Linked DNA regions of Homo sapiens: region 1 is linked to region 2. Evidence: fine-mapped expression QTL. Tissue or cell type: whole blood. Region 2 holds a variant in brackets; the other region holds the start of a gene. All regions are shown on one strand. Distances are from middle to middle.

Region 1 (10,549 bases), 46 kb after region 2:
TACCTTGACACTTGTCACTTCTTTTCCTGGTCCCCTAACTGAATAAAAGAGAAGTTTTATTGCATATTTTTGCTTAGGTCAATTTTACAAGGTTAATATTACAAGTGAATGGGCATTCCTCAAATGCCAGTCTCTGGCATACTTTGTATATAGCAGATACTCATTTAAGTACTTACAAACTCTTCTTGCTTAAAGTCCTCAAATATAAGTAAATGATAAGGCTTATTTTAATTTTCATTTGCACAATTTTAGCATGCAATATTATTTTCTAATGGAAAAAGTAATGCAACATAATTCTTAATCCAATGCATCTTTCATAACAAGACACTTCTCTCTTTTCTACCACTATGAAGCTCATTTTCCCCAATTAATACCAAAAATTTACAGTTAGACATAAACCAAATCAGTCCTGCACATACCATCATTCAAGACACCTTTCAATGGAGAGAGCAAATTGGTCAATCATTTAAATATGTACATATCCACTACCCAACCTAAACAAGACAAGAAAATCAACAGGCTTGGAATTGCTTAACTTGCAATTAACTTTTGTCAATAGGGAAGACAATTTTATCAGTTTAAAATCATAGGAGAGCAAGGAACTGCCTTCCTTCTGGAACCAGAAACCATGTTGGGACACAGCTAGCCTCAATACGGATATGCAAAATGCATCTTAAGTCTTTTGTGTGCTTGGTATTGAAGACAGGCTAAACTCAGGGTAGGTAGGAGGTCAACCTACTAATCAAAAATACATGGAAGCCAGCTGATGTGCTAGTCGGTCTGTATTTTTAAAGCAAAATGAAAATCATAGACTTTCAGTTAAAGTAAACTCTAAAGTTATGAATTTATAGTACATGTTTTCCACTGTAGCTGAAGGAACAATATTTCTCAACAGAGTTAATAAACTACCTGATTCAAAAACCAAGAATAAAACTGAACCACTGCATTCTAGGATGGCGGACTGTAATCAGAACTAATATGGCATCACTATGTAAACCTTCTGGATCACCAAACACAGCTCCCTGTAACTAAGATGGAAACAAGAGATTAATCACTTAATATCTAGATGTTGATTGTCATCATCATAAGAAAGTAAAACAAAATTGTTCAATTTGGGTTTTAACTAGAATTCAGAAAACATCCAAAATAGATCATATATATAATTCTACTTTTATTATAATCTTCAGCCTAAAATATAGCAGATACAGAAGTATGTATGCCTTACAGGATTGAATAAAGATAAGGAACTCTGACCCCAGCATTTTTTCCAGGGTCTAATAAGGAATCAGTAGAATCTTATAGGTCTTCTGTCATTGTTTATCTCTTTCCATAAAGTGGGCAAAACGATAGATCTTATATGACCGTTTTAAGAAGAGGCTTATGAGGTCTTGCCTGCAAATAAAGTTACAGAAATAAAAACAGTAATTGATAACAAATTCTTTTAAGAATCCCTAAATTTGAGTAAATGCAGTATTGGAATATTTTCTAAAATAAAACATCAGGATTTCTTTTGAATTTTCAGGTACAAGTTTAATACAAGTTGACTATCTCTTATCTGAAATGCGTGGGATCATATGTGCTTCCGACTTATTTATTTATTTATTATTTTTAGTTTTTTATTTTGAACCAGAGTCCTGCTCTGTCGCCCAGCTGGAGTGCAGTGGCATGATCTCGGCTCACTGCAACCTCCACCTCCTGGGTTCAAGGGATTCTCCTGCCTCAGCCTCCCAAGTGGCTGGGACTACAGGCGCACGATGCCACACCTGGATAATTTTTTGGATTTCAGTAGAGACGGGGTTTCACCGTGTTGCCCAGGCTGGTCGCAAACTCCTGAACTCAGGCAATCTGCCCACCTTGACCTCCCAAAGTGTTAGGATTACAGGCGTGAGCCACTGCGCCTAGTGTGCCTCCAATTTATTATTTTGGATTTTGGAATACTTGCATATGTGTAATGAGCATCTTAGGGATGTAACCCAAGTCTAAACAAGAAATTCATTTATGTTTCATATACACCTTATACACATAACCTGAAGGTAATTTTTATACAATTTTTTTTTTAACGGAGTTTTGCTCTTGTTGCCCAGACTGGAGTGCAATGGTGCAATCTCGGCTCACAGCAACCTCCGCCTCCTGGGTTCAAGCGATTCTCCTGCCTCAGCCTCCCGAGTAGCCAGGATTACAGGTGGGCACCACCACCCTCGGCTAATTTTTTGTATTTTTAGTAGAGACGGGGTTTCACCATGGCCAGGCTGGTCTTGAACTCCTGACCTCAGGTGATCCGCCCGCCTCAGCCTCCCAGAGTGCTGGGATTACAGGTGTGAGCCACCGCGCCTGGCCTATACAATATTTTAAATAATTTTGTGTGTGATACAATGAAGTCAGGTGTGGAATTTTTCACTTGTGGCACTAAAAACGTTTGGGATTTTGGAGTGTTTCAGATTCTGGAGCATCTTGAATTCTGGGGGATTTTGGATTAGGGATGATCAACCTGTATCTATGTTACAGCCTCACTGCAAATATGTTATTCACTCCCACTCATGTAGGTATGATCTCAATTCACAAACAGGCAGAAACCATCTCAATCCTATTTTTTCCACAGCAATTTTATTCTATCAGGGTTTCAAGTAAAACTGCCTTAAAAAGGTAAATAAAAGGACTTAGTAAATGTGTTTACTGTTGCTTACACTAAAAAATTTTCACTAAACTACGAAGACACTGAGAGATAAGAGGAAGGGAAAACTTGCTTTGGTATTTCTTTTTTTTTTTTTTTTTTTTTTGAAGTAACCAAAGAGGGGTACAATTTAAGCTAAAAGAAGTTTGCAGTTAGGTTGGGTTGTGGCCTTGTTTTAGGTAAAAATACATGGGTTACTAGTTTTCTTTTTTTTTTTTTAACAACAAAAAGCTAATTTTGGAATTCTACTTTTTAGAAAATACAAATAACCTTACAGCATATTCAATACTAAAGCACATGCCTACTAAGAAATCTCCTTTCTAGTGAATAGTGTCAGTGATTTGGACCTTTTGTCTATGGAGTAAGAATGAGTAAGGGTAAGAAACATGCAAGCTTGTTAACCTAGAGTTAACTTGAAGGTATTCATAACCATATTATAGAAACATAACAACATTGTCAATTTTGTACTAACCTTATTTTCTATAATTACCTTTAAAATATATTTCCAACTCTTTTCCACTCAACTTTGAATGCTTTTTTTCCAGACTCATTTAATGCCTGATATTTCAATGCACATACTTTTATCAAACCATATTTCAGTTTAATAAACAGAGTAAATTATGAACTGATAACTTATTGTCCAAAGGCCTACATCACATACTATATTTATATTTGTAGAGTAGGAGGACAAGTACAGACTTGTTTGTGATATGCAAGCCCAGTAATTTAGAAACTATGATAAACCAAATGCAAAACCCATTTGATAATTTTTAAATGTCACATTTCTTTTGAGTGTAATTTTAAACTCTCATTAATAATGGCACCAAAGGATGATTCAGGAAGTAGTACAAAACTGATAGTCTCTCAGAATATTATCAGGTGATAAAATAATTTGTAAAATAATATTATTGTCTCAAAAATGTGAAATATCTAACTGCAATCATCTATTAAAAATGATTTAATACATATATACTATTTCTTAGGAATATATGGTAGTAAAGGAGTTTTCACTTTTGATATCTTTATTTTACATAGTCACTTGATGAATAATATAAATCCATTCTTGTGGAGCAGGGGGTATGACACTATTAAGTATATTTACTAATTTTGTTTATTATCTACAAATGTTGTTTATTCCGAAATTTTAAGTATATAAAAATCATTTTTGCAAATAGGATTTCTAAAGTTGATCATTAGATGCCAATAAGTGTATCATTACAATTTTAAAACAAAAATATAAATTTTCATATTTTGGGATTCACGTGTTTGCTGCCCATTATTTTTTCAGAGCAAGTACCAAAAACTGGAGTGCACTCTACTTCAGAAGTTTTTCTCATGTTAAAGTCAGAGCAGTTAGGCTGTAATGGATGTGCCAATATAAAAAAAAATTAAATTTACACATTATTTGCCAAAAAGTGCACTCGACTATCATCATTATTCAAACATTTCAGTCAGTTGCCTCCACAACTCACTTATTTTAAAACTATAAAGTGAAGATTCCTTTCCCCTCTTGTTCTCATAATCAATTAAAATATACATTACTCATTCAACTTTTAAAATTTGTCTCTCTTAAAAGATTTTAGTCCATTAACTTGGATTTCCCACATCTGAATGTAAAACCAAGGTGCTTAATTCAATTTAATGATGATTTCAGAAACACAAAGTTACGTCACGTTACTAGAGGTTAAAAACACACACACATACACACTGGTTTTGTGAAAACCTTGATGGCAAGCAAGATATTCACCATCTCTTCTTTTAAATTATAGCTTTAAAAAGGGGGTGAGGGTATCCATTGAAGAATAAAGCCTGCTTTCTGTCACACACACACACACACACCCCAATCATATCTATCAGACCTATTCAAGTTGCCACAACATGACTATTGTCAAAGCCAAAAAAATTCTCCTTTAAAATATTTAAACTTCATTTTAAAATTAAAACTGAAAGCAAGATACTCAACTGCCAACTACTGTTGATGAAACTATTAAAGCCTGCACTGACCTACTTCATATCAGCATCATGACGGCATGGATGCATGCCAAGAAAATAATGAAAATTACTATATAACTAACCTAAATCTTGTATTTAAAAATTGTCACTTTAAAAATGTGCAAATACTGTTCATGCAACGCCAGTTGCTTTACGATATGTTTTCAAAATGAGAAAATGAGTTTTGATATTTTAGTACTCATATTCAATGATGGCCCTGCAAAGATTTCATTTCCATTTTCAAAATCAAGGCTTTTTAAAATACCATATAAAATTCTTTTTAAACTTCTATTAAAAGCAATCTTAGACCAAATTCCAAATATTACTTTCCATTTAAAAAATATTGCTACACTTAAAAAAGGCAGTTAATGAAGCATCCTACAAAACAATGCAAGTTCATGTTCAAAGAATATTGCAATGGCTCTAACAGTGGATGGACTTAGTGTATTTAATTATTAAAAGATTCCCACTAGACTTTAGGAGTTTAATGCTGAAATATTGGAAATTTTCATACAAGAAAGTAAAATAGCGAAAGATATTCCATCAATGGTTTCTTTTAAAAAGACATACAAATGGCAAGACATTTGATTCCCTATATTTTAATTTAAAAAAAAACCACTTTGTTGTAAACTACCATCTTAAAATATTTTATACTAAAAAAGCACTTTCTTCACAATCAATGCAAAGAATAAACTCCCTGAAAAAGAAATTTAATATTAGGATAAGGGAGGCAAAAACATTCAGAAATAGCAGCTAACCCAACTGAAAGGAAGAGACACATTAGGTTTTGTGCTGCATATTAATATTCTTACGCACAGTATCTGTTTGGTGAAAATTCACAATACACTTCTTCCTCCTTCTATGGCTGCAAAAAGGAGTAAACACATTTCACATTCTCCAGTTCCAAATTCATGCCACCATCATGCAATATGACTTAATTTCGACCCATATTTCTGTTACAATGAGTGAAAAAATAAAACCAAAAAACTTGTTTATCTGCACTCACAATTGAGGAAGGGGTAAAAGCATTTTTTAGCTAAGAAGACAGGGGCTGATTGATGCAAAGTCCGCACACCTCCAGAGATCCTACAAATGTGCACCCGACTGGGGAAAGCCACATTCAATGAATGCATCAGCCTCCTCCTCCGCTCCCCCCGCCCGCCGCCCCCCACCCACTTTGCAGCAGAAATGTGCCTGGGCTTTTTCACGCGAGCGATGGAGGATCCTCTTACCAGATGGAGTTCTTGATCTTGTGTTGCAGCGCGCTGGCCTCTGTCCCTGGCAGCCCGGGCACAAGGGCTGGCAGGGCCACCCCCGAGTTGGGGGCGCTGGGGGGAAGCTGCTGATGGGCATCAGGCTGCTGTGGTGGCGGCTGTTGTTGTTCCTCTGCCATCGCTGCAGAGGGGTGGGAGGGAGGGAGGGAAAGATGGGGGCGCGGGGAAGGGTGAGGGAAGAGACCGGGAGGGGAGGACGAAGGGGGGAGAGGAGGAGGGGGAGGGGGAGGGGAAGAGGAGGAGGAGGAGGAAGGAAGCTGGATAAGCTAGGCCTTTACCCCAGGGCTCGAGTGAGTCGCTTTCGCCTGCCGCCTGGGGAACATCACCGGGGAGACCAGCGGCTCCTCACGGCCGGGGCGCTTCACCGCGGGAGAGGCATGGCGGCGCCCCTCAGCCCCCCGCTGGCGCCGCCGCCTCCTCCCGTCAGCGGCCGGGGCTGTGGGGGGGTGAGATGGGGGCGTTTGAAGACGAAGTGGGGGGGGCAGGCTCCCCCCAAAATCCAAGAAGAACGGTTGCTCAGGGATTTGGCGGCCAAGCCTTCCTTCCTTGTCCCCGGGGCTTTCTACTGCCGGGTCCCCGTGCTGCTGCAGCCCCAGGCACCGCTCCACGCCACTCCCCACGCCGCCGCCGCCGCCGCCGCTCGCTCCCGGCCCCGCCGCCGCCGCGGCCGCCGCTGCCCTGCCAGCCCCGGAGGCAGCCCAGTGCGCGCAGCCGCACTGCGGCCCGGCGCAGACCGCACAACACCTACCGCTCCGCCGGGGGGCGTGGACCAGGGTGTGCGGGCCGCGGGCGCGACGGGCCGGGATGGGGGCGCACGGCGCGGAGGGCGGCGCGGGCCAGCGGGCCAGGGAAGCGCGCCGCTGGGGGCCGGGAGGAGTCCGGCCCGGCTGGTGGAGAGCAGGAAAACGTGGGGGAGGTGCTGGCGAGAGAAAGAGAACTTGCGTGAGGAGGAGGAGGAGAAACCAAATTTAATAATATTTGGCGTGGAAATGGGATTTGGGCGGGGGAGGCATCTTCAAAGCAAGTAAAGAGAAATCAACATTATCCCCCTTCCCCTGCACATGCATGTGAGGATTACTTCCTCCCTGAGTAAATGAAGAGAACTGAAGCAGGTAAGACGATAAACTGACTTTTCAGAAGCCCCCAAAGAAGAACACCCGTTGGAATTAACCACCCTTTAGGTAATTCGGTCTTGAACGGAAATCGCGAGTCAGGAGCTGGGTTGAGTGCTCCTCGGTCGGGCATTCAAAGCCCTCCAAATCTGGCCCCACTTTAACTATCCAATCATAGCGGCCTCCATCCCCCTGCAAGAACTCCCGGCTCCAATCAGGGAAGTCTCCATGCCATCCTCAACGCGCAGCAGATTCATTCTTCCTTCGTGCCTTTGCTCATGCTGTTCCCCTCCACCTCCCCACCCCACCCCACCCCCTTTCCAGGAATGCCCTCCCTCCTTTATACCGCTCCCAATTCCACCCAGGCTCTAAAGCATAGCTCAAGTCGCGGCTTGTCAGGGTCCCTGCAGCCAAGGCCACTGCCTGCCTCTGAAAGAAACGCATGTAGTACTCACAACATGGAGGCTCAGGCGTCAGCCACGAGCTCCTTCCTTTGGAGCCCGTTGAACACCCGCCCTCCCCCCGCAGACTCCGCACCATTCCCCCCCTTCCCATTCATACCTAAATGATAGCTTTGCCACAAATAAGTCAGTCTCCTTTAAGAGCAGAAGAATTGGCTTTTCTAGGTGGGGCTGATCAGGGAGGCTGCGTGGATGTAGAATACAACAGCCAAGGCCTCTGGCACCAAATGGAACAGCTGTTCAGCTCACACTGACCTTTCTTTGGGCCCGTGGGTGTTATGAGCCCTTCAGCTTTAACTTTTCTGATAGAGTGTCTATCAGGTTTCTACCTGTTAGATCCTCTGGCCACTTTCCTGCTGTGTGTGGACTTTGGGCTGTGGGGCTCTGCCACCTTTTAGACTCCTAGTGGATGGTGAATCTGATTGGCTTGGGTTGCCTGGCCTTTGAGTTCTCAGTTCCCTGCCTTGGCCTGAAACCCTCTTGCTTTTGTCCACTGTGCCCTCTCTCCTGGCCCACAGACTTAAGGCCCAGACTCACACTGAATGCTTGCACGTGGTGAGGGTTGAGGGTGGGGGTGCAGGGAGGAAGAACACCTGTGTGCAAAATAAGCCGCCCCCCCGCCCCCGGGGCCTCTTGGATTACGCTGTGCTCCAACTACCCATTGCACGAGTTGCATCACACAAATGAGCCCCCTTTTCCATACTCTAAGGTCTCTATTAGCTTAGCCACTTTAGGAAACTATAGGTGGTTTACGACATTCATTTTGCATACATATCTTCATGTGGGTGTGTAAAGACAGTATTTTTGTGGACCTAATTGATAGACATGGTGTGCACTAGACAGAAGCTTTGAAGGATAAAAATAGCTAATGTTTGTTGAACACTTTGTGTGCCAGACTAGCACTTTCCATACATTATCATAGTTATTCCTCCCCAAGAGTGTATAATGTAGGTATTATTAGTCTCCCTCTGTTACAGATGAAATGGAAGCTTAGGTTAATTAACATTCTTAAAATTACCCAATTAGTAAATGCAGGAGCCAAAATTTGAGTCCTGGAAGTTTAATTCCAGAGCCTGCAAGCTATGCTGAAACTGGAATTACGCTGAAAAATCTTGAATGTAGGTATATATATACGTGTGTGTGTGTATGCCCTATATCACGTTGAGGAAAGTTGCCAAGTTCCCCAAGGTTCTAATTTTTTGCCTTGCCAAGAGAGAATGATGGCTCCAAGTTGCAACACCCTGGGAGGGGGAGATCCTTAGGAAGTGGGAGAGTCATCGAGGGGGTAACGTATCTAAGGTCTGCCAAAGGCCTTAAGAAAAGGAAGCCGAGAACCAAGACGTTTTATAAAAAGTTCGCTACCGGGTGTCACACAGGCTGGCTTCCCAAGTGCAACTTCTGAGAGTTTTTAATGGGTTCCATAAAAGAGCCAGGTCACCCCAGCAGCCACTAGAGGGCTCACGAAGCTGCAGCCGCGGGCTGCCCTCTAGCGGCGGTGCTGACCGGAGTGTGGTGGTAAACCTTTTCCGGCCTTCCAGGACCTACAGGGAGTTGAAGGAGACCAGCAATGGGAGGGGTGGCAGAGAGTATCAGACTGAGGAGACCTTATTGCCAGAGTGAGATACCCTTTCAGGGAGGAAAGGGGCAGCCCTCACTACTCACTTAACATCTGGGAGTACAGTGGGTGTTTTGTTCCAGTCTTCAGAGAAGACTGTGAATAAAATCATGACATTAAGAAATCTGATGAAGTTACCCAAAATTTTGAGTGTGGACTCAAGCCAAACCCAGGGACCCTGAATAAAGGCAGGAGTGTAGCCATGTGCTTCTCATATTATGTGGGTTCCTTTGATTGTGCAACCCTGTACTGAGGACCCTCAAGGACCCAGAATCAATGTGGCTCATTTTCTCTGAGCATCATTTTGACTCTCTGGTAAATAAGGTAAGACATTGTAGTAAGCATGACTTTTTAAGATAACACACAAGTATTACCCAACCCTGAGGAGCCTAAGTTTATTCTCTACTGGGAAAGTGTACACCAGAGGAAAATTTTGAGGAACACTGATGTAGTGGGTTAGAAAAACCTGGCCTTGGAGTCAGAAGACCTGGGAATTCAAACCCTCTGTTTCGATCTCTATAAAAATGAAAATAATGATGTACATCAGAGGGTTGCTATAAGGAAAACATGAAAAGTTATAGGTAAACCAGGGAAGTGTTGTCCACATTTAGAGAGTATCTACAAGATGGATTGTCAGCACCTCAAAGGAAATGACTATTTTATTTATCCTAGTAGTCCCAGGACATAATTCCTGACTCCTGACTATTTAATAAATATTTGTGGAATTTAGTAGTTAACTAACCCTCATTTTCCTAGCCCAATCCATTATATTGTCTTGCTCTCTTGTGTCTGTAAACCTTGTCTCCTTTATGAAACTGTAAACATTTTATACTGTCCAGACTGTAGTATATACATTTATCATGCCTGATATATAGCAGTATTGGGCACGGAAAATATGAATAAATAAGACCTGGCCCCAACTTGAAGTAGTTTACATTTTTGTGAAGTAGAGCAACATATTAACATATATAAGATGATGAGTTATAAACATATCCACTAGTGTTGTGGAGTCATAATGGAGGGAGGGATTGGTCTTGCTCAGGGTAGAAGAACTGGAGAAGGCATCATGGCTGGCATTTTAATTGGGTCTTGTTGGATGAATAGGAGTTGAGTAGGCAGAGCAACAGAGGGAAGATGATTTCAGATAAAGGGAGTAACATGAGCACTGGTGTGAAGCCATGAAAGGGTACTGTTTGCTGAAGGAATAATGCATAGCACGGTGTTGACTCTGTGATCAGATCCTAAAGTAGTATAGGCGAGGGAAAAGAAGGAGAGAGAGACAAAAACCCACTTTACAAAATGTTACTTTGCATTATAGTTAGGATCGTTCTATCAAAGGAAGGCCTGAAAGTCGGTTTCATTATTGGTACATACTGATTAAGTGCTGAAAGTATACATTTCACTTCCACAAAGTATGGTGGTTT
Region 2 (10,549 bases):
AAAAACTCTCTAATATGAAAGACAGGAAAAAAGGGGGTGAAACCCTTACTTGGAAGAAATAACACTGTGCAAAAAGAAAACAAAATTTTAATCCTCACAAAGGTTAAGGGAAGACACGGCATTCAAGAAACACAAATTGGATACTATATACATATATTTTTAAAGTATATTCAGAAAGTTAAAAAGAGACATCTTAGAAATTAAATCTATTTAGGCTGGCTATTTTCTGTTTGCTCTTTGAAATCACTCTCTACCCTCTGTGATAACCCAGGAAGCTGGACTTTTCACCATCAGTAGGGCTCCCTTCCTCTCTGGCCAATTTTTGTCACTGGACAGAGGTAGGGATGTAAAAGAAGAGAAAGCACCTGGTTCTCTCTGACAGGCAATGAGTTAGTGGTTTGGGTAACTGTGGTTTTTGTTAGCATGTTTTGTAATATCTTTTTGAGTCAATAAATTATAAGTTCCTAAAGCTTTGATTAAAAAATTAAATATATGAAAATTCAAGTAAATAAAATTTCAAATAACAAAACCTCAAAGTTATCAAAAAAGAAATGGAATTACCTATAGACAAAGGAGTTAGAAGAATATATTTGCAATTATCTATCTTTTTACCATTACTCCAACTAGTTAAGAAAGCATTTTCAGCAGCTGGAAAGATATGCACAAAAATACACGTATCACTCAATAATAAACCACCAATGCACATCTGAGCCTGCACTTTATAAAAGCAGATAACATTTGACTTTTAAATATTTCATAATTTAAATGTTCATTTATTATTTTGGGGTTTCTTAAACATTTTTATTTTATACATGTTTATTTCAATTCAAATTTTGACAGACTAAAAGACTGTATTTTATTAGTCCATTTATAGGCAATTTTGCAACACTGATTTCTTGTGGGAAAAAAAAACCAGACAGATAGTAATTATTACGATCTGTGGAACTGAATGACCAGGAAAACCGACCTCTTACTGCAAACCAAGCACATGGAAAGCCCACCCATGCAGCAGCAGTGTCTTGATGATCAGCTGAATGGAGATATAACATCTTATGTTGTGCCCAGAAGGTAGGGTAAGGCTCAAGGCTGCAAGGGGCAAAATGTTCTCATAAAGGCAAGATTCAGGTGCTGCTTGCTGAAGCACTCCACAGACACACCCTGTCTGTCCCAATGGCTTGTGACTGCCACACAGCAACAATGAACACAATATACTCTCACTCTCACTCTCAGAGCAAGTATCTTCCCCTTATGAGAGAATGAATTCAGGCAATTCTTTACAAAAATGACAGCATTTGTTCCAAAGCACCAACAGTATAACGCTTTTTAGAAAATACACAGAAATAAACAGACTAAACATGGGAATTAGTTCTTAATGGTGGAATCTGTTACTACTGTATCTAGCGTAATAATAACTTCGGATAGATTACAATCAAAATGCTTATCAAATAGACTGTGCTGTGTGAGGGAATGTCTGACCAAAGAGTATTCTCACAGGCACTTTGGGTGCTGGCTGGTAAGCGCTCACAGGGATTCTTCTCAGTGCCAGAGAAGCTGAGCATCACATGTATTTGTAAAATCCTTCTCCAGACTTCTTGCCAAGCTTCTTCTCTGCCATCAGCTTTTTCAAGGATGGGCTGGGCTGAAATATGGGGTTCTTTGTATCTATTTCATGCCATCCATCCATGATGAACTGCACAGAATCCAGCCCAACGTAATCTAGAAGCTCAAGTGAGCCCATGGGGTACCTGGCTCCTAACTACATAGCAGTGTCAGTGTTCTCCTTGGATACATCACCTCATTCATGCAGCCTGACTGCTTCCATGAGGTGTTGAATCCTGAGACAGCTGACAATAAACCCAGGAGTGTCCTTGCAAGGAACAGGATGCTTTCCCAGGGTTTTGCTCAAGTTTACCAAAGATTCAAATGTCTTTCGGGTGGTCACTGGTGTTTTAAAGACCTCTACAAATTTCATCAGGGGCACTGGGTTGAGTAAATGGAGGCCAGCAAATCGGTCTTGTTTGGTGGTAGCATTGGCTATGCTTGTAATTTGCAAAGAGGAAGTGCTGCTGGCAAACTTGTATGTTCAGCAACAAACTTGTCCAACCTCTTGGAGAGCTTGATTTTCACCTTTAGATTTTCTACAATGGCCTCTACCACTAGGTCTGTGCTGTGGACTACGGATATTGCATCTGTGCTGGTTGATATGCTGCTTAGGGTTTTCTCCACAAATTCATCAAAAGCCTTAGGGTTTTCTACAAACAACTTCTTTGTCACTTTCCTAAGGCTTTTCTCAATTCCCTCTTTATATTTTGCCAAGATGTCCTCTGTCTGGTCTAGCAACACTACTGTGTGGCCGGTCACTGCAGCAACCTGTGTGATGCTGATGACCATCATGTGCTTGATGATGATTTTTCTTGCCCAAGGTTGTGGACAAGGAAGACAAAGAGTGCATGAACTGCCTGGTGATGAAAGCCATGGTGCAGTGGCGGCGGCGACTGCAACAAGACCCAGGCAGGAAAGGCGCGTGTGGTGTTGGGACCAGCAGACGGGCAGCCTCTGAGGCCATTTTCTATTTTTGAATAAAATGATACTACTAATTTTATCTGCAAATAAGTTTTGTTCAAATGACAATGTATGCTCAACATTAATATTTTTCTAATTTTTTAAATTGATGATTGTTGATAATTGATAATGACAGGCATTGAACTTCCTGTTTTGCTGATTTTTAACTTTTACAAAAATTTTAATTAAATAGTATCAGTCTGGTATTTTGGTATTAGATTTTAAAAAACAAAATTTCAGTACCATAATTGTGCTGTGGTATCATAACTATTACATTTATGGAACATGCTAACTACTCATCTTCTAAATCTTTCAAGATTTACATCTCAAGTCATATTACCAGAATGTTATTGATATAAAGTAGTAGGGAAGAGGGGGAAAACATCAGCAATAAAGCAGATAAAAATTTAAGCAACAGAGATGGCTTGAGAAAGCATATTGTGTTTTCTCTAAATCAAACTATAGGGTGAAGCTAGATAAAGCTTTCTTATCCAGGGGGGCTACACAAAAGAAATAATAAATTTTAGGAAGCATGTGTTTAAAAATTAAAAAAACTTAGTCTAATCCTACTTTCTCACAAAGAAATGTCACAAAAATACCATGTAACATTTCCCTTTATTCAAATTTAAAGATGATACAATAAATAAATTAGCAGTCATGGGCCAAACATATATAATATATAATACAATGTAAGCAATAGTATCACAGAAAGAACATTTAGATATCTTGTTTGCTAGAAACATTTCAGAAACTTTCCCCAGTTTCAACAAATCATTGATAAACTATTTTTTACTGCAGAAAATATTCTAGGAGACTCTCACTTGTCCCTTCCAACACCAAGTTTAGCCTCTATCCAAAAGTTCAATGCTATTTTTACATTTATTTGGAGTCCTCAAGTCTGAAGTCAGAGTGACTCACAACTCCTATATACTTGATTCAAATTTCTTGTGTTATAGAAACAGAGGTATCTGTGAATACCAGATACTAGATTTAACCCAAAGACAATCTGAAATAGAGGAGGTATACTATAATAGATCAACGAGAAGAAGCTCTTACATTCTATCCTTACCAGGACAAATCAAACTCTTAGCTTCTACCCCTATAAAATAATTAATTCCGTTAAAAACACATTGACTTCAGATCCCTTTTGTAGGTTGTGACTTGGCTCGCAGTCCATCATAGCAAAACTTATTTTTACCTTATACTTGCTTATATTAAATGAAAACTATTTACTTTTACTTTTGTTTGCTCATATGCTATAAAACAAAATTTTTTATATTTAAAAAAATAATAATAGTCATAATAGTGGCTAATGCTAAAAAGGTGTAGCCAGAAAAAAAGGAAATAAAAAACATTCGGAATCACACCATGAAGACATTTAAATTCACTTACTTTGTCTTCTTAAAAATAATGGATTCTGTTGGTAAGGATGGGGAGAAATTGGAATCCTTGCACATTGCTTGTGGGAATGAAAGATGATATGGCTGCTCTTGAAAAACTTGACATATCTTCAAAAAGCTAAAACAGAGAATTACCACTTGACCTAACAATTCCACCCAAAGAAATAAAAATAGGAATGCAAACAAAAACCTCTACACAAATGGGCTGATGTTCATAGCAGCACTGTTCACAAGAGTCAAATGGAGGAAACAACCCAAATGACCATAAGTGGATGAATGGATAAACAAAATGTGATATATTATTAAAATGAAATATTATTCAACCATAAAAAGGAATGCAGTATCAACAAATGCTACAATATGGATAAACCTTGAAAACTTTATGCTAAGTGAAAGAAGGCAGACATAAAAGGTCACATATTGTATGACTCCCTGTATACAAAATCTCCAGAATAGCTATATCCAGAGAGATAGAAAGCAGATGAGTGGTTGGTTGGGGTTGCGGAAATGAAGAGTGACTGCTTAATGCATATTCCTTTTGGATGATGAAAAATGTTCTTGAACTAGATAGAGGTGATGGCTACATAACACTGTAAAGTTACTAAATGCTACTGAATCATACACTTTATGTGGTTAATTTTTATGTTATTAATTTTACTTAATAAAAAATAATTAGGATCATAAAATTAAGAAAAAACTTCCTTTAGATACTACTAGTGCCTAATCAACAGATTGCAAACTATCAATTCTGTTTCTCTCTGTAATCCAAGTTGCCTTTGAAATAGTCATTGTTCTTAGTACTTGCCTGCTCTTATGAATTTTAGAGACTCTACTTTTCATGAAAGGAAATTAACCAAAGACCCGTGTTTCTCAACCAGGTACTGACATTTAGGATGGCACCCTGCTTTACTTTATGGGTTTATCAAATGCATTATAAGATGTTTGGAATCATACAGTGGTGTTCACTAAATGCCAGCAGTGCTTCCTAGACATTCTGACAGCTAAAATTG[C/G]CCCACATTATTTCCACTTGTTTCTAGTTGAGAGCCACTGCTCTAGAACAAAATGACATATGCTATGTATTGTGTTACATTATAAGAAGTTCCCTAATATACGCAACTCAATGCTCTACAAATGAGTCATTTCAAAAGCTCACACGTTTTTATGTATGGAAAGTAAACATCTTGCTTTTGACATAGGATGCTATAAAGATTTATTGATTTTATTGTTGTTCTAAACATAAAATCTAATTTCAGCCAGAAGAATGAACTTTATCATAAGGTAACTTGTGCCTGATATTTGATTACTAGATCATATTACACAAATGAATTTTCAACTTCTATTAATAACATTATTTCATTCATATATTTTCTTTGCTTTTTAAAAAATATTATCAGGTTCCAAATATATAGGAAAGTTATAAAGAATAATATAACACCCATGTACCTGCTAGCCAGTTTGAACAAACTTCAACTTTTTCCTTTTTTCTTTAAGGAAGAAAACTTTACAGATAAAGTCCCCATGGGATCTTTTCCTATCTCATTCCACCATTCCTTTCTCAGTGGTGACCGCTATCCAGAAGTTGTTATTATTCCCATGAATGTATATACATTTACTACAAATGCTGACTATCTCCATAAACAATACAATAGTTTTGTTTACTTCACAGGCATGAAGTTCTGCGGCATGTATCACTCTTTTTTTTAAAAAAATTTACTTAATAGGCATTAGAAGTTTATCTATTTTGATACATTCTAGTTTACCCATTTTAACTGTTACATAGAAGTGTGGATTCAATTGTGTGTCCAGACCCCTCCCCAAATTTGTATGTTGAAGCCCTAACCCCCAAGTGCTGTATCTGATGGAACGGATACAGCACTCGGAAGGAATCAACCCTGCTGGCACCTTGATCTTCGACCTCAAGCCACCAGAACTGGTAAAAATAAAATAAAATAAAATAAATTTCTATTAAGCCATCAAGTCTGTGGTACTTTGTTATGGTTGCCCTAGCAAACTAATATGCACGGTATTCCATTGCTTTATTTATTCTTTAATAATGGGCTCTTAACGGTATTTCCAGCTCTGTACTGTAACATACAACATTGCAACAAATGTTTGGTATGGAGATCTTGTTATTCATATTGCAGGACTTTTTCTTGGACACATACACAAATATTCGCACACACACTACAGTATGTTGATCTTCAACTTTCTAATTATTGCCAAATTGCCTTTCAAGGTAATTTTGGCCAATCTATACTCCATCAGCTGTGTATAAGACTGATTTCTCTCTATCCTCTCCAAAATTGGTAATGACAGACTTCTGCCAATCGGATGGGTATGAAATATTTTGTTTTAAAATGCATTTTTTTTAATCAGTGATGTTGAACACCTTAATGTATTTGCTGATCACTAAGTTTTCTTCTGTGAATTGCCTACTCATATCCTTTACCCCTTTTTCTGCATGGTGGTTTTTATTATTTTATTTACTAATAGAAGCTCTTTTTATACTTTAGATACTAATCTTTTGTCAACTACTTGAGTTACATCGCCATCAGCGGCATGTTGCTTTTTTTAAACAGTGTTCATTGTCCAAGGAAAATTTTTATTTTAATATAGTCAAATATTTTTCTTTATGAAAAGTGCTTTTGACATGTTTTTAAAAATCTTCCTTACCGTGAGCTCCCAAAGTTATTTTATTTTCTTCTAAACTTTTGCTTTTCACATTTGGGGGCTGAGTTTTTCTGGATTCCATGTGTGATGTGATAGTTTTTTTTTCATATAGATAATGAAATGTCCCAGTGGGCCATCCCTTCCCTTGCACACAAGGCCTATGTCTTGTTAACCTGCTTCCTAAGTCTAGCACTTTGCCTGGTACACGTTAGGCAATTATAAACATGTGACCAATAAAAGGAAGGATGGAAGAAAGAGAAGGGAGAGAAAGGGAAGCAAAGTAGGGATAGGAGTGTGGAAAAAAAGTATTTGGATCATGGTCTTTGATACAAACTATATATTTGAACCACAGAAGTCAAAGGGTATTAAAACAGATTCAAGGGGTGGACTGCAGGAAGATGGGCTTTCCAGGATTCTGGAATGCTAGAGGTAAATATACCACTTAAGTGCATCTGGGCACTGACTCTGCTTTCTCTCCCCCAGGATGAGAATATGGTCTTGCTAGTGCTGAATTAGTTCAAAATCCAGAAAATTGTGATGTTATAAATATCATTTATTAAGTCTTTGCAGAATGTTCAAGAAAGCCTAGGTACAAAAAGGCAATGATATATTCAGAACTTGATACAGCAATGCTAGCTGAACCTTTCTCGTAGGGACGGTGGCTATATGTACCACAGGAAACCTAAAGAGATGGGAAAAACTTTTTTAGATATACTGTATTTGCTGCTATTCAGAATAGTCACTTGGTTTCTACATTCTTAACTAAATAATTTAGGAGCATACAACAGGTGGGTAATAGCCTCTTCCCAACAATCCCTAACCTGAAGTTCAAAGGTGGAATGCTGTAGTGGAGGCAGTATAAAAAAGAAAAAAAAGAATGGGACCTAGAATGACTTTTGCCTCAGACGCCCTCAAAAGAAAAACATCTCTCCCTAGAGCAACGTATGTCTAGTTCAGTATAGTCAAGGAAATATGTTCCATTAGAGTAAAAGGGACTCAGCCTCCCAATGTAAGTACGCAACACCACCTACAAAGTATTCTTGCTGAAATATTGAAACATATCTCTATTTAACTACCAATTTATAGTAATAAAGGGGAAGAGGAATATGCTACATAGCACCATGAAGATAAAATCAGCAAATCCAGACTGTGGGAAACTCCATAGGACAAAGGATCCAATTTCTTCAACAAATAAAAAACTTCAAGAAAAAATTTTTTAAAGGGATCTACAGTTTGAGAGATATCCACCAGTAGCCATAAGGACACTGATTCAAACAAACTGTAAATGTGATATGATGTCTGGGATTCCCTTCAAAATAACCAATGAAGACTTACAGATAAATAAGATTAGCTATGAAACTAATTGTTAAAGTTGAATAATAAAGACCTGAGAGTTCATTGTCTTTTCTCTCCTTTTGTATACATTCGAAATTTTTTACAATGAAAAGTTAAAAGAGGGGACTGGGTGTGGTGGCTCAGGCCTGTAACCCAGCACTTTGGGAGGCCAAGATGGAAGGATCACTTGAGGCCAGGAGTTCAAGACCAGCCTGTTCAACATAGCAAGACCCCATCTCTGACAAAGAAAAAAAAAAAAGTTAAAAGAGAGGAAGGACTTAGCAGATCCTTTTAAAAGGAAAAGCAAATAAACCATGTAGGACCTACAGCTAAGAGACTGCAGTCTGACACCTAAAAACCTTCTGATGTTGATTTAAACTGTGAAAAACTTAAAATTTACAAGAGAAGGCTGTAAATCAAAGATTCAACCACTATAACCAGTCTACTGAGTGACTGTTAATCAGTATTTACTTAAGTTACCACTGAGTGATACTGAAAGAATATTATTTGAAAGTGTAGGATATAATGACTCATTTTTGCTTTCTAATGAGTTATTTTCCTTTTTTGCTGTCCTTCCACGTATAGGTATCTTTCCTTACGTGATTGCTGGTTGCTCCAAATGCTGAATTTTACCATTGTAATATTTAAAAATAGCTAATTTGCTCTAACAGGATTGTAAAAATATGTATTTTGGGGAGGCAGAGTACTGAACAAATTGTGCTGCTCTCTTTAGCCTCAATCTATATGCCTTCCCTGTTTTCTTTAATGCAAGCATTTTCAGGTTGATATTAATATTAAAAGCTCAAAGAGTCAACAGGATTCAAATATGTCAAATAACAGGAAAGCATTTGCACATATAATATACTCCTTAAAGTTAAGAAGATCTTCAAATAAATTTATTTAGTAAGAAACACCATGGTAAATATAGCAGGAACCAAAAACATGGTCTTGACAGGAAGAATTCCAATTCTGCAACTACTAGCTATATGCCCTTGACTTAGAAGAATCATTTTTCCCGAGGCATACTACATCTCGAGTTTTTAAAATAAAGATTCAACATTTACATAAAAAGCCATATTGTAATAACAAGCATGTAATAGGTTCTTAATAAATGCTACATTAAAACTAAATCTAGTCTAACCCTTTCATTTACAAATTAGGATAAAAAATGACTTGTACAAGGTCACACACTGATTTTTATTTGGCTCCATTATCCAGTTAAAAATGCTATGATTATGTCTGATAATAATGCCTCCACTTTACACTGGGATTTTAATCAAGAAGAATATTTTGTGCCCCAGTCTTACCATTTTGGAACTTCCTCTGTCATAGAAACATTATATATTGTCAGTAAATAAGCTGAATTAAAGGTCAGTGCCCTCTAGTGCTGAACCTTCAGAGGTAGGTGCAGGTTCCAAATACAGGCAAATTTACCTAGTCTACAGAACAGGAAACAATCTCCATAAAAATAATGAAATGAAAACATGAGATAGCTACATGCACAGCGACCCATCTGTAAGGATGACTGTTCTCTCTGGGAGATGAGATTTTAAGCCTTTACTTTCTTTTCAAACATTTAAAAAGCTTTTAAAACTTTTTGTTATTGTTTAAGTTTTTATAACATATAAAACATTTAAAAAGAAGCTAAAACACAGGGCAAGATAACATCACTGGATTGCACAGTGGGGAAAACAACTCTTCTTCTCCTACTGCATAGTTTCAGAGGAAGTTACAAACCATGCAGCTTAGTATCTAATGTTACATTAAGAAAAAGTCGTAAAAGTGCTGTAATCCCAGCACTTTGGGAGGCCGAGGTGGGCGGATCACGAGGTCAGGAGATCGAGACCATCCTAGCCAACATGGTAAAACCCTGTCTCTACTAAAAATACAAAAATTAGCTGGGTGTGGTGGTGCATGCCTGTAATCCCAGCTACTCGGGAGGCTGAGGCAGGAGAAATGCTTGAATGAGGGAGTCGGAGGTTGCAGTGAGCAGAGGTCGCACCACTGCACTCCAGCCTGGCAAGCCTCGCCGTCTCAAAAAGAAAAAAAAAGAAAAAGTTGTGTCAGAGATAAGGCAGATCTTTAAATTGAGAAAAACAAGAGGATAAATGTGACTTCAATTTTTTGAATGTACTTTAGGTGCCACTAATAGGTGACATGCTATGTATGTACAAGTCTTTTTTTTTTTAACTGAAAAGCATTAAACCAGCCCATGGTATTAGGTGCTTAAATGATTATAAAAAAGAAAACCAAAATGGAAATGGTTTAGAGAGCTGAAGTTAAAATGAGAATTCCATTAAGGTGGCATATCCAGGTAATGGTGCTTAATGGGAAGACTACGGACTATACCAGTGTCTCATATAAATTAATATGAGAACATTTCTTAAAACTGTAGCTAAAATGGCCTACAGGTATACTTGTAAGACATGACTTATTACTCTTTTCTAGAGTTAAGAGTTTATTAGGGCAGTAAAGGGTTCAGTATCCCAAATCTGGTCCAAAAAATAAAGTCGCCAAGTTCAATGTCCTGTAGTCCTCCACTTAAACCCAAGAATCACAGAACTTTTCTTATCACAAAAGGC

What was found. PIP is the estimated chance that this variant, and not a neighbour inherited with it, causes the effect.
Region 1: RFX7 starts here. The variant in region 2 is fine-mapped to the expression of RFX7 in whole blood (INTERVAL, PIP above 0.99).

Annotation. Positions count from the first base shown.
Region 1 is chr15:56,237,230-56,247,778 of GRCh38, forward strand. It overlaps RFX7 (regulatory factor X7), which reads right to left and starts at 6,650. Exons shown (of 10, transcript NM_022841.7): 1 at 6,216-6,650; 2 at 5,896-6,058. The coding sequence starts at 6,056. LOC124903569 (laforin-like) reads right to left here and starts at 7,589. Exons shown (of 3, transcript XM_047433428.1): 1 at 7,505-7,589; 2 at 6,754-6,950; 3 at 6,122-6,653. The coding sequence starts at 7,589. The coding sequence ends at 6,204. It also overlaps a transcript of TEX9 not described here. RefSeq lists silencers at 6,176-6,245, 6,336-6,395, 6,546-6,835, 7,326-7,375 and enhancers at 6,622-7,267, 7,268-7,913, 7,626-7,675, 7,914-8,559.
Region 2 is chr15:56,190,789-56,201,337 of GRCh38, forward strand. The region is part of intron 2 of RFX7 (regulatory factor X7); the gene reads right to left. It also overlaps the pseudogene LOC390586. Among named protein-coding and RNA genes, the nearest start is that of RFX7, 48 kb to the right of the region's middle. The variant C/G (reference allele first, on the strand shown) is at 4,973.